2 linked regions of the Homo sapiens genome follow. The protein of the gene in region 2 interacts with the protein of the main gene of each other region in a biochemical or structural test. Each region holds a gene or a part of one and is shown on either strand. Other genes may lie near its edges.

Evidence for each region.
Region 1: of the proteins of RANBP2 (region 2) and SENP1, one has a biochemical effect on the other in vitro, tested with the Homo sapiens proteins (one study listed by BioGRID).

What each region holds. Positions count from the first base shown.
Region 1 is NC_000012.12:48,064,580-48,068,079, forward strand, and holds part of SENP1 (sentrin-specific protease 1), read right to left. Parts: intron 2,387-3,500; coding exon 2,348-2,386; intron 1,102-2,347; coding exon 1,017-1,101; intron 642-1,016; coding exon 486-641; intron 1-485. UniProt on the Homo sapiens protein: Protease that catalyzes two essential functions in the SUMO pathway.
Region 2 is NC_000002.12:108,760,982-108,764,481, reverse strand, and holds part of RANBP2 (E3 SUMO-protein ligase RanBP2), read right to left. Parts: intron 2,382-3,500; coding exon 2,287-2,381; intron 1,246-2,286; coding exon 1-1,245. UniProt on the Homo sapiens protein: E3 SUMO-protein ligase which facilitates SUMO1 and SUMO2 conjugation by UBE2I. Involved in transport factor (Ran-GTP, karyopherin)-mediated protein import via the F-G repeat-containing domain which acts as a docking site for substrates.

The sequences.
Region 1 (3,500 bases), on a different chromosome or scaffold from region 2:
TTTTCAATATTTTAAAAATAAAGCCCAGATTGGTATATAAAATAAGCGAAAGCTGAAATATACAAGAAAATTTAAATAACACGTGTTCTATGGCTTTTTGTGTGTGTGTGTATGTGAGATGGAGTCTTGCTCTGTCACCCAGGCTGAAGTACGGTGGCATGATCTCGGCTCACTGCAACCTCTGCCTCCCGGGTTCAAGCAATTCTCCTGCCTCAGCCTCCTGTGTAGCTGGGATTACAGGTGCATGCCACCACACCCAGCTAATTTTTGTATTTTTGGTAGAGATGGGGTTTTACCATGTTGGCCAGGCTGGTCTCGAACTCCTAACCTCAAGTGATCCACCCGCTTCAGTCTCCCAAAGTGATGGGATTACAGGCGTGAGCCACCGTGCCTGACCACTATTGCTTTTATGTTTGAAACTCATCCGAGGGATTCTTTCTAAACATGATACTTAGTAGTGTAGAAATTAAGTGTATGTAACTTACCTCTGTAATTTCAGGAAATTCATCTTCACTATCAGTTAATTTATGACCTTTTTTTTGTGTTTCTTGGACAACAGTAACAGGAATCTCCTTTTCAAGAGGTACACGAAGATGTAGTTCTACTGAATCATGTACTGAATGTTCCCGCTCCTGCAATCTCTGAAAGATAAAACTTCAGAGTAAGTGGGATAAAGAAATCTGTGGATGTTCCTTGATTTATGATAGGGTTATGTCCCAATAAACCTGTCATAAGTCAAAGAGCGTGCTTAAATGCCCATTGCTTTCGCTTTTTTGTAAAGTCAAAAAATCATTAGTCGAACCATCACAAGTAGGGGACTATCTATATTTGTCTTATGTACAATGAGTAGCACTGACTGGACAGACCAAGAACATTTACGACATATCATAACATGCTATGCTACCATACGATCTTGGAATTACAACAGCAATTACCCAAATCTGGGTAACTTTCCAAAATAGTTTCTACTTTGATGTACTATTTATTTGTAATATTATTCCAATTTTCTTTTTTACCTGGTTTTGAAGCTGTAAGGCCAATGCCTTCTGTTCTTCAATCTGGCGCAATCTTTCTCGTGCTCGAGAATCATAAACACTAGTTCTAGAAAATGAAAAGGAACGTGACCAAATGTAGACCACTCTCATTATGAAACATATTGTTGATGTACACTGAATATTAAATACAGGACCCTCACAAAGAAAGTCTAAAATCCTTACACTAACTTATCATCCTTATTTTAAGACATAGAGTGAAACCACATAATGTTACTGAAATTACTCTACCATTTTTACTTATTATTTTTTATAGAGATAGGGTCTCACTACAGTGCCCGGGCTAGTCTCAAACTCCTGGGCTCAAGCGACCCCCCTACCTTGGCCTCTCAAAGTGCTAGGATTACAGATGTGAGCCATTGCACCCGACCTATTTTTACTGAAATTACTAAAAATATTAGTGTGCTGCTAAATGTGAACAGATGACTTGTTAACATTTGTAAACACACAGTTCTTTTCTTAACATGCTTTTAAGATTATAGTGAAAGCGAAACTTCAGTCTGGAAATCCAAAAATGGGATTGAACCCTAAAGGAGAAACGAATACAAGATATCACTGAAGTTTAATTCAAATACTTCATTTTTGATAGATTTTTAAAAAATTACCGAGACCGAGGGGTTTGGATAACTTAAGTTCCTTAAGTGAGACTAAATGCTTTCAGTGATTTTGCAAAGTCCAGAAATATGAATTATTCAATAAATTAGTTTTACAAATGCCAAAATAGGATCATTTATTTTCCCTATTATATAATAGCTAACTCTATTTTTCCAATTTAATTTAGCTTCAACAATTGTTATAGATTTAATAAACATAAGTATAGAAATGTTCCAACTCCAACAATATTTTGAAAACCCAACAACTTAAAAGTATAAACAGGCACTTCTTTTTTTTTTTTTTTGAGATGGAGTCTTACTCTGTTGCCCAGGCTGGAGTGCAGTGGCGTGATCTCGGCTCACTGCAACCTCCACCTCCCAGGTTCAAGCAATCCTCCCGCCTCAGCCTTCCAAGTAGCTAGGATTACAGGCGCGTGCCACCATGCCCAGCCAATTTTTGTATTTTTAGTAGAGATGAGGTTTCACCATGAAGGCCAGGCTGGTCTTGAACTCCTGACCTCAGATGATCCACCTGCCTCAGCCTCCCAAAATGCTGGAATTACAGGCGTGAGCCACCGCGCCCAGCCTAAACAGGTACTTCTTATTGGCAAAAAATAAGCAGGATGATTAGCTAATTGTTTGATTTCTTCTAACTAAAAATGAACTGATTGAGAAGGAAAAATGATACCAAAAATAACTTACAATTCTTTGATCCACAGCTCTGCCTGGAAGAAAGTAGAACTATGGGTAGGAAAAGAAAAATTTGACAAATGAGCAGGAGGCTTATGAGAAAATTAAAATATTTTCATCAATAAAAACAATCATTTAAATTGTTTATATGAGTGCTTTACAAGTATGGAATAAGTAAAAGGAATCTAAATGACATAAAATAATTGTAACTAGGAATTAAGGAGACACAATCCTTATGCATACATATTAGTTAAAATCATATGGATACATATTAGTTAAAAAGGTGACCCAAAGTTCAGCAGAGATACTACATTTGGCATAGCTCCCTACTTGCATGAGACCAACATTACGTGAAAGAGGACATCACTTCTCAAAATAATACATTAAGCTAGAACATTGCTCTTCCCAAATGACTCAGATTGAAAGATTTATTAAAAATCCCCACACACAAAATAATCTACATCAAATGGCTAACAAGCCAATGAGCCAAAGCAGAGAATCAGCAACACAACTTCCTTCCAAAGATGACAGGCCAATTCTAGGTCCATGTGGCTCTGCTGACAACCCAAGTGATATGCTGAGCAGAGCCACAGACATGATTAATTGTCCTAGAGCCTCTTGTTTTTCTCAAACTTCCTTATCTCCAAACTCCTAACTAGGCAGGATCTATCACAGAAACACAAAGAAGAAGAGTGAACACTTTTCCAAAGAAAACTATTAAATATAGAGAACAAGTAAACAGAGCATCAAATTGGGAGTTAAGAGACCTGGATCAGAGGCCAGGCATGGTGGCTCATTCCTGTAATCCCAGTGCTTTAGGACGCTGAGGTGGGAGAATCGCTTGAGCCAAGAGTTCAAGACCAGCCTGGGCAACATAGTGAGATTCTGTCTCTTAAAAAAAAAAAAATGATCTGCAACTAGAATAGTGCTTGGCACAGAGTAGGCATTTAGTGTTGTTTGTTTGTTTTTTGACTCTCACTCTGTTGCCCAGGCTGGAGTACAGTGGCACAATCTCGGCTCACTGCAACCTCCACCTCTCGGGTTCAAGAGATTCTCCTGCCTCAGCCTCCTGAGTAGCTGGGATTACAGGCACCCGCCACCACACCTGGCTAATTTTTTCTTTTTTTTATTTTTATTTTAGTAGAGACGAGGTTTCACCATGTTG
Region 2 (3,500 bases):
CATGGCTACATTTGTTCCTGGGGCTTTTAAAATGCTCTGGGCTTCTTCAAACTTGCATTTAAAAAGTGCTGCTTCCTCAGGAGTTTTGAACCTAATAGCAAGTTGTTCTGGTTTTGGCAACTCATCTGCATAATCAAGGGCATGCCATACAAAAGATCTGTCTGATCCAGCATTTGGTGTCAATTTCATATCTGGACTGATGTAATGATTTGCACAGATTTTCAATACTTGCTCTCGTCTCATTAGAAGGCGAATTTTACCAGATGTTTTATGCCTCAGTATTTTTACATTGCCAATCCCACGTTCTTTCCATTCTTTGGATTCTACATCGAAACGAAACAATTTCGCGCGGTTGCAAAAGAATTCTTCTTCATCTTCCTCACCAGTTTTTACTTCAATCTTATCAGGAAGAGGTACTACAGGCTCAAAGTGAGGACCGTCATCATCATCATCCCCATGGGCACTTCCTCCATCTGTCTCATGATTCTTGTTTGCTGTCTCTAAAGTGGGTGTTCCAAATACTGATTTCCCTGGACCATGGAAAGTAAACATATCATCACTTCGCCGAAAACCAGAATTCTTTTGCTGACTCGACCCCATGTTTTCTGTAAATGAAATTCCAGACACATTTTTGCTTCCAAAATTGAATGTATTTCGAGGCCCAATGGTTTGACCACCAGGAATTGGTTTGGCTCCACTATAGCCATCTCCTTGCAAGGGTTTATCTGAAGTCAGGAGACCTAAAAGGCTTTCACTGTTACTGTAAGCTGCAGGAGGGGGCTGTGTCACAACCTGTGGTGAGGAAAACGTGAAGTCACCATCATTTGATTTGAAATTTGAGTTAAATTTAAAAGGAGTTGGCTGTGTTGTGTGTGCTTGTGTTGGCAAAGATGGCCTTAATCCTTCACCCGGCATGGGCTGAACAAAATTAGTTTTCCCAAATTCTATAGTCTTAGATTCTGCAGATCTTGAAGCATGAGCTGCAATCGGAGGTTTTGTGAAATATCCTGGTTCTGGCAAAGGTGGATTTGTGCTTGTCTGTTGAACATTGTAATTAAAGTAATCATCACCCCTGGGCGATAGAATTCCCGTTGCAGGAGACTCAAAACGCAATGCAGGAGGACCATACATCTCCTGAGAGAACATACAAGCAGATGAGCTTTGCACTGGCGGTGTGTGCATCTGTTGCGGATAGGCATAAATATGCTGTTGGGGTGGAAGCCTATTCATGCCATAGACTGGGCCCTAAAAGACAGAAAGTTAAAACATTTTGTAGATTGTCTACAAAACTACAGATAACTAAATGCAAACCAATTCTCACAAACTTCAAACATGAATATGAAGTGAAGAAGATCTCATTAGGGGATGTAGTACACATCATTAACCCGTTTATGCCAGAGGCTGCAAATTTTCTGTGTGAAAAATCAGACCTTGGCAATGACCTTGAGCAGTAGGATATAAATAACTCCCATAAGCTTAGTGTTCCAATAATGGAGCACTAGGCATAAGTAGGTTAAGAGAAAACCACATTACTACAAAGATACTTGCATATATACTTGGCATATAATGAAAATTATGTATAGCATCTTAAAATCTACAGCTAAAGTCATAAAATAAATACCTTCTTCATTCCTAATTTATCAAATGATGTTAATGATGATGATGATGATGATGATGATGATGGTAACATTTATTGAGCATTTATTAATGTGCCAGCTGGGCACTGTTCTAAGCACTTTACATTATTATCTCATTTTAATATCCTCAAAAACCCTATGAATTAAGGTATTATTATTATCCTCATTTTACATATGAGGCAACTGATGCATTGAGAGGTTAAGAAACTTGCCTGTGGTCAAAATAAGCAGAAGAGCAAGGGTCTAAATGCACCCCAACACTCTGTCCTCAAAGCTGTCACATTCAACTACCACTGTAATATTGAGTCTTCAATCAATTGTTATATATATAGCTGTATCAGGCCTGAAAGTACTTACCACATAGTGGGTCAGCAAGGGCATTACAGTTCTATTTCTGTTAAAACAGAACGATGAAGGATCCACCACCACCACTCCCATTTTTAAAATATTCTAAATATTCACACTTATTAACACAAAAATAAGGTGACTAAGAAGGATAATTTCTGTATTTGGAGATAAATTTAAAATATCTACATTTTAAGGGACATAAAAGTTTTAATAGTGAACTGCTCTCTTGAATTTATTTGAAGGAACCCTAAACAATTTAAAAAGGAAATAATTATAAATGTATAAATTATTCCTTTGTTACCTTTGTGGGAGTAACATTAGCTGCTGGTCTGAGAAGATACTGGGAATTATATGCTGGTGACTGACTATAATATACTGAAGGGCCAGTAGTTGCAACTAAAAAAACAAAAAGAAAATAAAGAAAACACTGTTAAAGTCTATACTACAGTTAAGACTATCTAGGCAAGAGCTATAAATACAAAGGCAATAGAAATTAAAGAAAGATTTAACTACATAAATTTTAAATTTCTGTACATCAAAATACACCAATCAAGATTATCAAATGACAAACTAGAAAAAAACTGCTAAATATGACATGAAGAATAAGAGAATAGCATTGCTGTGATCAACAAGAACAACTACCTCACAAGCATTAAAAAAGGAATAAAGAAGAAAGTAACTGTTGCCTTTTCTAAGAAAGATCAGTATGATGTGGAATTATGGACATTCAGTCACAGAAAGGACGTAAGGAACCAAGATGCCATCTGATGGTCAATGCATTTGAAGTGGGCCTAGAAAATCTGCAGAAAGACTAGGTTGTATTTTGTAAACTAAAGCTATTACTGAGAATGTTCAGCTCAAAAATCACCTGACAAATTCATGGACAGGATGTCATAAATAACATAAAATGTGTTCCCTGGCTTAAAATAAAAAGCACATCAACACTCATGCTGATGTACAAACTGTCTGCTCCCTCTGTTTTGTGTGTTTTACCAGGAAACAAAATGACTAGAAGGCACCCATGTTAATGGCAAAACTACCAATAGTCATTTGCTTGAACTGTTTTATGATAGTTTTACCAGAAAACAACCAAAAGACCTTTTATGCCTGTACATGGAAAAAGAAACAGAAACTGTGCCAAGAGGTTCCAAACAATTGCCTCTGGAAAGCACTGAAAAATCAAGACCTAGAAAAGGCTAGCCAGAAGCCCAAGTTTGATTTTGGAAACCTTACAGAGGTGAGGATAGCTATTTTGAAATTACTATGGGGAGGAAGCAGGCACAGAACACAGAACAACCTGACAGAAATGGCCCAAGAATCTTAAAGTCTTGCAAGATGTCTGTCTGCATGAAAGCAAAAAGAAAAAATAAAATATTAAATAAAAAAAAAATCTTAGTCTGAAGTTTAAGTAGGGACTTTAATTGACTACTGACTCTAAACTGTGCGGCTCTAATAAATCTACTAAAAGTAATCTAACTTTTAAAAGCACCATATGAATAGACAATTTAGGAAAGA